Linked DNA regions of Homo sapiens. The protein of the gene in region 1 purifies or fractionates together with the protein of each later gene. This does not show direct contact. Each region holds a gene or a part of one and is shown on either strand. Other genes may lie near its edges.

Region 1 (3,500 bases):
GTCTTTCATGTTAGGTGCTTTTCTCAGTTATCTGATGATACTGCTTTGCTCTTATTTTAACTAAATTGCTGATTAGAAGCCCTGAGATCATGGTTAGGCATTGATTGTGGGCTTCACTGTATGGTGATTTGGCTGGGCAGTTTTGTCTTGGAACTCTGGGTGTCAGTATCTTTAGGGATTCCCTTTTGGACTGGGTTTTCAGTTGACCTTCTGCCTGGAAAGGAGAGGTGGACTCAGAAGGGTTCTCAAATCTTTTGTAAATTGTCCTTTAATTGCCTTGCTTTTAGAAGATAGCCCTGTCTCAGCTCTGGTATCTTACATTTCAGAGACTCCTCCAGAGAATAAAATTCCAGATTTCTGCTGGGTTGGAAGTAGGTGTAGCATCCATCCAACTGAACCGAGGCAGGGAGGGGATATGAGGCTTAGAATGCTCCTTAGGTAGACATTCAGCCAATTCTTCTGTTTTTATCTCCACTTTCACACCCACTTTCAGAAGTACTGCCAATTCTTTGGCATTTGGGGTCTTCTCCAAGGGTTGCTTCTCAGCTTTTCTCATTACAAGTTCAGGAATCCATTTTCTCAGATCTAGGTTGGTTAACTCACATCCATCAGCTCTTCAACTTGCAAAATTTTGTTACTTTGTTTCCTGTCTAATTCTCTTTTTCTCTAAAGTTTTATGCCTTAAATCAGTTTACTCTCCATTCTAATGGGCTATGGGGAGGAAGTGAAAAATCTGTCAACTTTCCTGAAAAGTCTGTCTCTCCACTCTTTGTCCTAAATATTTCTTCTTATACATACACATTCCTATTCTGAGATTGAAGATCTGCTCATTTGCTGATTCAGTTTTAGCGATCTATTATCATTAATTCGGATTCTCCCACTTTATGAATGTGTGCCAAGTTAATTGTAAAGCAAAATAGATATTATTTACTTGCCCAAAAGAGGAAATACCATTCCAGAAATTTCTCATGTAATCCCCTCACTCTGACAGTTGTATAGCCTTAGCTTTGTAAACGTGGGGAACTGCCTTTCTGGGTCCCAGTTTCTTCCTTTTTTACAATTGGAACTATTATACGTTTAGCATGTTTATGTGAAATCATGTAACACACGCCACCTTACTCATGCTAAGAACACATTGAGTATCTATTGAGTTGTCAATTTGAAAATACTACAACCAACAATTCTAACATTGATACTATATTAAACATTTAAAGAAAATCAGCAATTTTAACTCTTGGAATGTCTTATAATTTTTTCTTTAGTGGGTCTAAAATTTAGCTGAAATAATTTTCTGCTTTTATAAAATGTTAAGATGTTATGGATAAAATAATTTTGAAAATTTTCATTCATTCATATTAACAAGCTGCTATTAAGCACTTTGTAAATTTAAACTGTACTAACGTGATGTTTTCTTTATCAGGGCATGAAATTAGTCTTGAGATATGTCAGCATACAAATTGAATGTAATTGGATTAGAAAAATTAGAAAAGGATTAGAAAAATTGAATTTTATCAATAGGTCATCAGTTGTAGTTCTATAAATATGAAAGTGTTAATATTTCAAATCACCCCTGGTTTTAAGATAGCTTGTATTGATTTTTTCTTCCTTTTTTCTCCCCCCAACCCCCGAGAAAAACCAGTTGCTTCAATTCAGATGCTCATTTTTTCTTACTTGGTCTATTACAATAAATTACCAATGGACTTACCTATTTCCAATATCATCTCACTTTATATTTTATTCATTGTAAACTAAGTTTCTAAAATGGAAATTTTAGAATTTCCCTTCTGCTTCTGAAAACACTTCAGTGGCTTTTCATTGGCCCAAACTTTTTGGGGGTAGTATTCAAAAGTTTCATGATTTGGCCCTCATTTGCCTTTCTGATGTCATCATATGTCACTCTCTCCCATATACTTTAATGCAAGTTTTGTGATCTCTGAGTACATGTCAAACTTCTACTTTAACTCCACTTGTCATTTGTGTTATGAAGACTGGAAGCCTTCCTTTTCCCCAGGCTTGGGTGAAGCCAAGTGCTTTACATACCTGGAATGTCTTTGTCACAGTAATTTTCAGTTAGTTTGTAATTGCTCATTTAATTAACTTAGTCCCCTCACTAGATGTGAGTACTTTGAAGGCAGTAATTTTTTTTAAACAATGGGTGCTTAACATTCAATAATAGCTTGTTGATTGTGGTGATTTTATATATTTTGGCAGTTTTTTAATGTTTTATTTTGAAACTGGAGATTGTCATAATTTTACATAGATAAAGTTGGGCATACTCTAATTTAAATATTGAATATGTTTTACAGCCTTCAGTTTGGAAACCTGCAGAATTATGATTGCCATGTTGGATGTATCCTTGAATAGAAATAGAAAATACTAGAATAAAGAGTAATTGCTTTCTGACTATCAAGCCAGTGGTTAGATTTCAGTGCCTGTAGTAAACTAGTGAATTTAAAAATACTTTGTAAGATCCTGTTTAAATTCTAGGCTTTCTAGTTTTTATGCAGAAGTCTGTTCATATAATGAGTTTGGCTAAGTCTACAGAAGCATACTCATGTTTTAGTCAATGATTTAGAGTCAGATAAACTCAGGTATCAGAATTTATTTTTGTTAATAAAACTATCAGAGAGATCACACAGGAAAAATGGGATTTAATGCATTCAAAGAGCTATGGGCAGCTCTTAATGCCTGGAAGGAAAACTTCATGACTGTTGATCAAGATGGAAGTGGCACAGTAGAACATCATGAGTTGCGTCAAGCCATTGGTCTTATGGGTAAGAACATTAACATTCTTTAGAATCTATAAAGCTAATCTTTGTTCTTTGATTAGATGAACTTAATTGCTTCAATTTACTAACTAATAAAGGGATGTATTTTTTTGCCAGCAAGTTCCTTTGTTTGTTTTCAAGGTTGTAGGTAAATTCTGACCAAAGACCTCAACAAAACCATTTTAATTATGATTTTTTTCAAAAGATGATCTTCCATACATGCATACATTCTGAATTTCTTCTGTTGTGTTTAAATTTATTTCTTTGTTAGTACTTACCAGTTAGATTGTATTCTTTTATAACTTGGCAGGATATCTAATTGGGAGCCAAAGCTTGCCTCAGTCAGTCAAAAGTCTGTACAAAATAGGTTTTCAGTGGTAGAAACCATGTTTTTGTCTTTTTTTTCTTAGATAGTGCAGAACACATAGCAGGTGCCAAAATACATCAGGATGGAAAGGTTGCATTTTAGAGTAATTTAGAAGTATATAACTTTATTCTTATACCTCTGATAAGCTGATGTTCCTAGTGTACTTTTAAAATGGATAACATACAATGGTGTTTAATTTGCTTAAACTTAATGCAGTTTTAAGTAGCTTTATGAATTGTTCTTATGCTTGTGATTTACACTCTTCTAAACAAAATCTATTTGTATGAAAATTAATTTTTTGGAAGTTAAAATCTGAACCCAATGGAAGTGGGCTTATCTCAAATTGCAATTTAAATAAGTCAAAT
Region 2 (3,500 bases), on another chromosome or scaffold:
GTCATACTTCAGGGATAAAGGGATACATTTCTGAGCAGCAAAGAAGGGAGACTGGTGGAGTGGTAGCAGCTGGGGCTTTGTATGTTTGTTTTGGCCACTTAGGAATAAAATTCACTTTGGCTAAAGTTTTAACTCAAGCTTTCCTTAGCAATTTATCTTTGATTTGATGCCAAATAAACAGCATTTTAGATGAAAACATAAGCCTTTCTAAGAAGCGAGGGGGTGAAAAACGGGAAGTACTCTGGCAGCCTTCATAGTAATTTTGGCCACAGCCACGAGTATAATAAATATAACTTGCTTTTATTCCATCAATTTGTTGATTAACTGGAATAGTAACCAGCAGTAAGTGTATTTCTGTGTTGTGTTCCAATATTTTAACATTATCATAATTCTTTTGCTAAGAAACCATATCTAACTTCTTAAATCATGAACGATACATTATCTCCTGTGTGGATTTAAGCAACCTTGTGTACTTTAAAAATGGAAATGGTAACCAAATTGAGAACAATGATTAAACACATATGAATGCACTTAATGTTAAATTTACTCATAATCTTGACCATATATAGAAACAGTATTTTTCACTCATCATTTAAGCACTAGAACAAGGACCCACTTTTCTTCTGATAGTTCTTTTCCTAATTCACTGGCGGCCTTTGCTTTGTTTTTAATTTGCCAATTAAAACAATTTCTATACATCTCTGACATTGATATCTCTTCCTTTTTAAACTCAAGAATAGTACATACAGAGTCTGGACTGAAAACTCCCTTGACTCTATCTCGACTATATGTGAGTTACATTACCTGCATTGTTGTTACTCATAAGAACATAGAATCTATGAGTATGTGTGTGTATACTCAGGTTCCCTAGTTATTACAGATACTCAACAAATCAACCTAGCAAAAACCATTCCATCTTTTCCAGGAATTTTAATCGTATCTATTTTTCATTTTCGTTTTCTTTTTTTTTTTTTTTGAGATGGAGTTTCACTCTTGTCGCCCAGGCTGGAGTGTGATGGCATGATCTCAGCTCACCGCAACCTCTGCCTCCTGGGTTCAAGAGATTCTCCTGCCTCAGCCTCCCGAGTGGCTGGGATTACAGGCACCTGCCACCATGCCCAGCTAATTTTTGTATTTTTAGTAGAGATGGGGTTTCACCATGTTGGTCAGGCTGGTCTCAAACTCCTGACCTTAGGTGATCCACCCGCCTTGACCTCTCAAAGTGCCGGGATTATGGGCATGAGCCACCGTGCCAGCCTTTTCATTTTCTTAACACCCAATCTTCAAGTCAAAAAGCTCTTCTGCTACTCTCTTTTATGATCTTGATTTACATCAACAATTGTCTTATTCATGATGGCCAGTGACAGGACAATGACTTTCTCAAAGGTGTCCCTTTATTTTTGGCCAATAGAGATGTTTTGTGTGTCAGCTTCATCACAGAGCAAGATGGAAAAATATAGGCCTCATCAGTCTCATGCCAACCAGAATGGGCCTTCAACTTATGGTGCTGGTTTGATTGAATGGACCACTGCATGAGTGGTCGGTGTCTGGGTTACTGGATTTTCTCTTCTGGTTATGAGTCACTGTTTTTTTCTCAATGTTAAAATGAGTGAAGACCATGACTCTAAACCTGTGACCTTCGCAGAAGGAAAACATTGTTACTGTTGCCATCGGTATTATTTGGCATCTACAAAGTCATAGAACAAAAACTTGCATACATTTTCTCCCTCAGGAAAATCTGAACTTGGCTCTGAACTCTGCCTCAGCCATCGGGTGCCATGTGGTCAACATAGGGGCTGAGGACCTGAAGGAGGGGAAGCCTTATCTGGTCCTGGGACTTCTGTGGCAAGTCATCAAGATTGGGTTGTTTGCTGACATTGAACTCAGCAGAAATGAAGGTAAGAGCAAGTCCCAAAGGTCATTTATGACACAGCTTTCTAATAACTTACGCGTTGGGGACTGTAGGAGGAAGATGTCAGAAATTCTCAAGTTTTGAAAACTACACAGTTATATTGATTCCATGGTATTCATGTCACAGATTCTATACACACAGACCAGACGTTTTTTAATGATAGAGCAAAAGCTTTTTAAGACCATAGACTAACAATAATGTTTGTTTGGAGCATAGGGCTCAGTCTTGAATGTTTGGCACTCTAACCTCAAGAGGTTTTTTCAGAGCTCACTTTGCCTTTAGATATTTGTAACAAATAAGAGGACTTTTAACTTGCACTTTGCGAAGTAAGCAACTCACATTCATATACTATAGTGAAGGTACCAGATTAGGAGGAACTTGGTCTATTTCTTATCAAAACTATAGAGGAAGGTATAGGTCAAAGGGTTCAAGGTTGCAATTATATGGGATGAATAAGTGGAGATCTAAACAGCACGAGGGCTATAGTTAATAATATTGTGCTGTATACTGGTAATTTGCCAAGAAAGTAGATTTCAGGCACTCTTCCTACAAAAAAGAAAGAAAGAAAGAGATAGAGAGAGAAATGAAGAAAGAAAGAAAGAAAAAGAAAGGTAACGATATGAGATGTGAGTATGTTAATTTGCTTGACCAACAGTAACCACCTTACTGTGTATGTGTCTACCAAGATAAGTATACCAAAACATCACGTTACACACCTTAAATCTATGCAGGCTAGAATAAACATTTTTAAAGACCGTAGAAAATTCCATTTAGGGTTTCAGAGTTCTCAACTAAATATGTAGCTGTCAATCTTATTGCGTCTTCTCTCACCATCTTATCTGTATGTAAACAGTGACAGCCCCCTGGCTTAGACAGAGGTAGCCCACCTTGATAAGTATCATGCAAAACACGATGTTATCTTTTAGTTATCAGGTACAAATCCTACCAATATGAAATCTGTAGTCAAGTTCTAATCTTTAGTTATACATACTTTTTTATTTATATGTCCAAATCACAATAACCAATGAAAAATCCTGAAATATTATTTAAAAACCAATGTATTAAACATAATATAAAGAAGGCGGGGGAGAGGAAATAGGGATCTTAGAACCTGTGAGAAAGAATATTGATCTTCAAATAATGACCTCAGCTAAATTTAAACCTTCTAGCTGAGCAAAAAAATACTTACTCATCTGGGAAAACGTAGAGGAGAGTTGATTACATTGTTGAGTTGCTATAATTAGGCAGGTAAGCACTTGAAATATAAAACACCTATGGGAATAGACAAGAGAACATTGTTATTATTACAAAATTGATCTCTTAAAAGCAAAAATGTTGTCATATTGTGAAATGTGGTTTGACAGACCCAGCAAAACATCCGAGCCAGTAGCCTTGGTTATTTTTATGGCTCTGCCCAAATGTTCTTAAACATAGCGTTGAGATTCACTGTGCTTTGTTTTCTCCATCTGGAAAATGGAGATAATAAATAAGCTCACAATGGCTTACGCCTCTTTTTAGGGAATAATAATAAAATATTTAATCCATGGGAAAGGCTACAAGAACCTTTACCCCAAAGAGGTAACGTTGT

The links. The genes of interacting proteins can lie anywhere in the genome.
Region 2: the proteins of GCA (region 1) and LCP1 purify together in Homo sapiens (affinity purification with western blotting, with the first as the bait; one study listed by BioGRID). This does not show direct contact.

What each region holds. Positions count from the first base shown.
Region 1 is NC_000002.12:162,354,132-162,357,631, forward strand, and holds part of GCA (grancalcin), read left to right. Parts: intron 1-2,306; coding exon 2,307-2,350; intron 2,351-2,626; coding exon 2,627-2,774; intron 2,775-3,500. UniProt on the Homo sapiens protein: Calcium-binding protein that may play a role in the adhesion of neutrophils to fibronectin. May play a role in the formation of focal adhesions.
Region 2 is NC_000013.11:46,151,178-46,154,677, reverse strand, and holds part of LCP1 (plastin-2), read left to right. Parts: intron 1-1,732; coding exon 1,733-1,898; intron 1,899-3,500.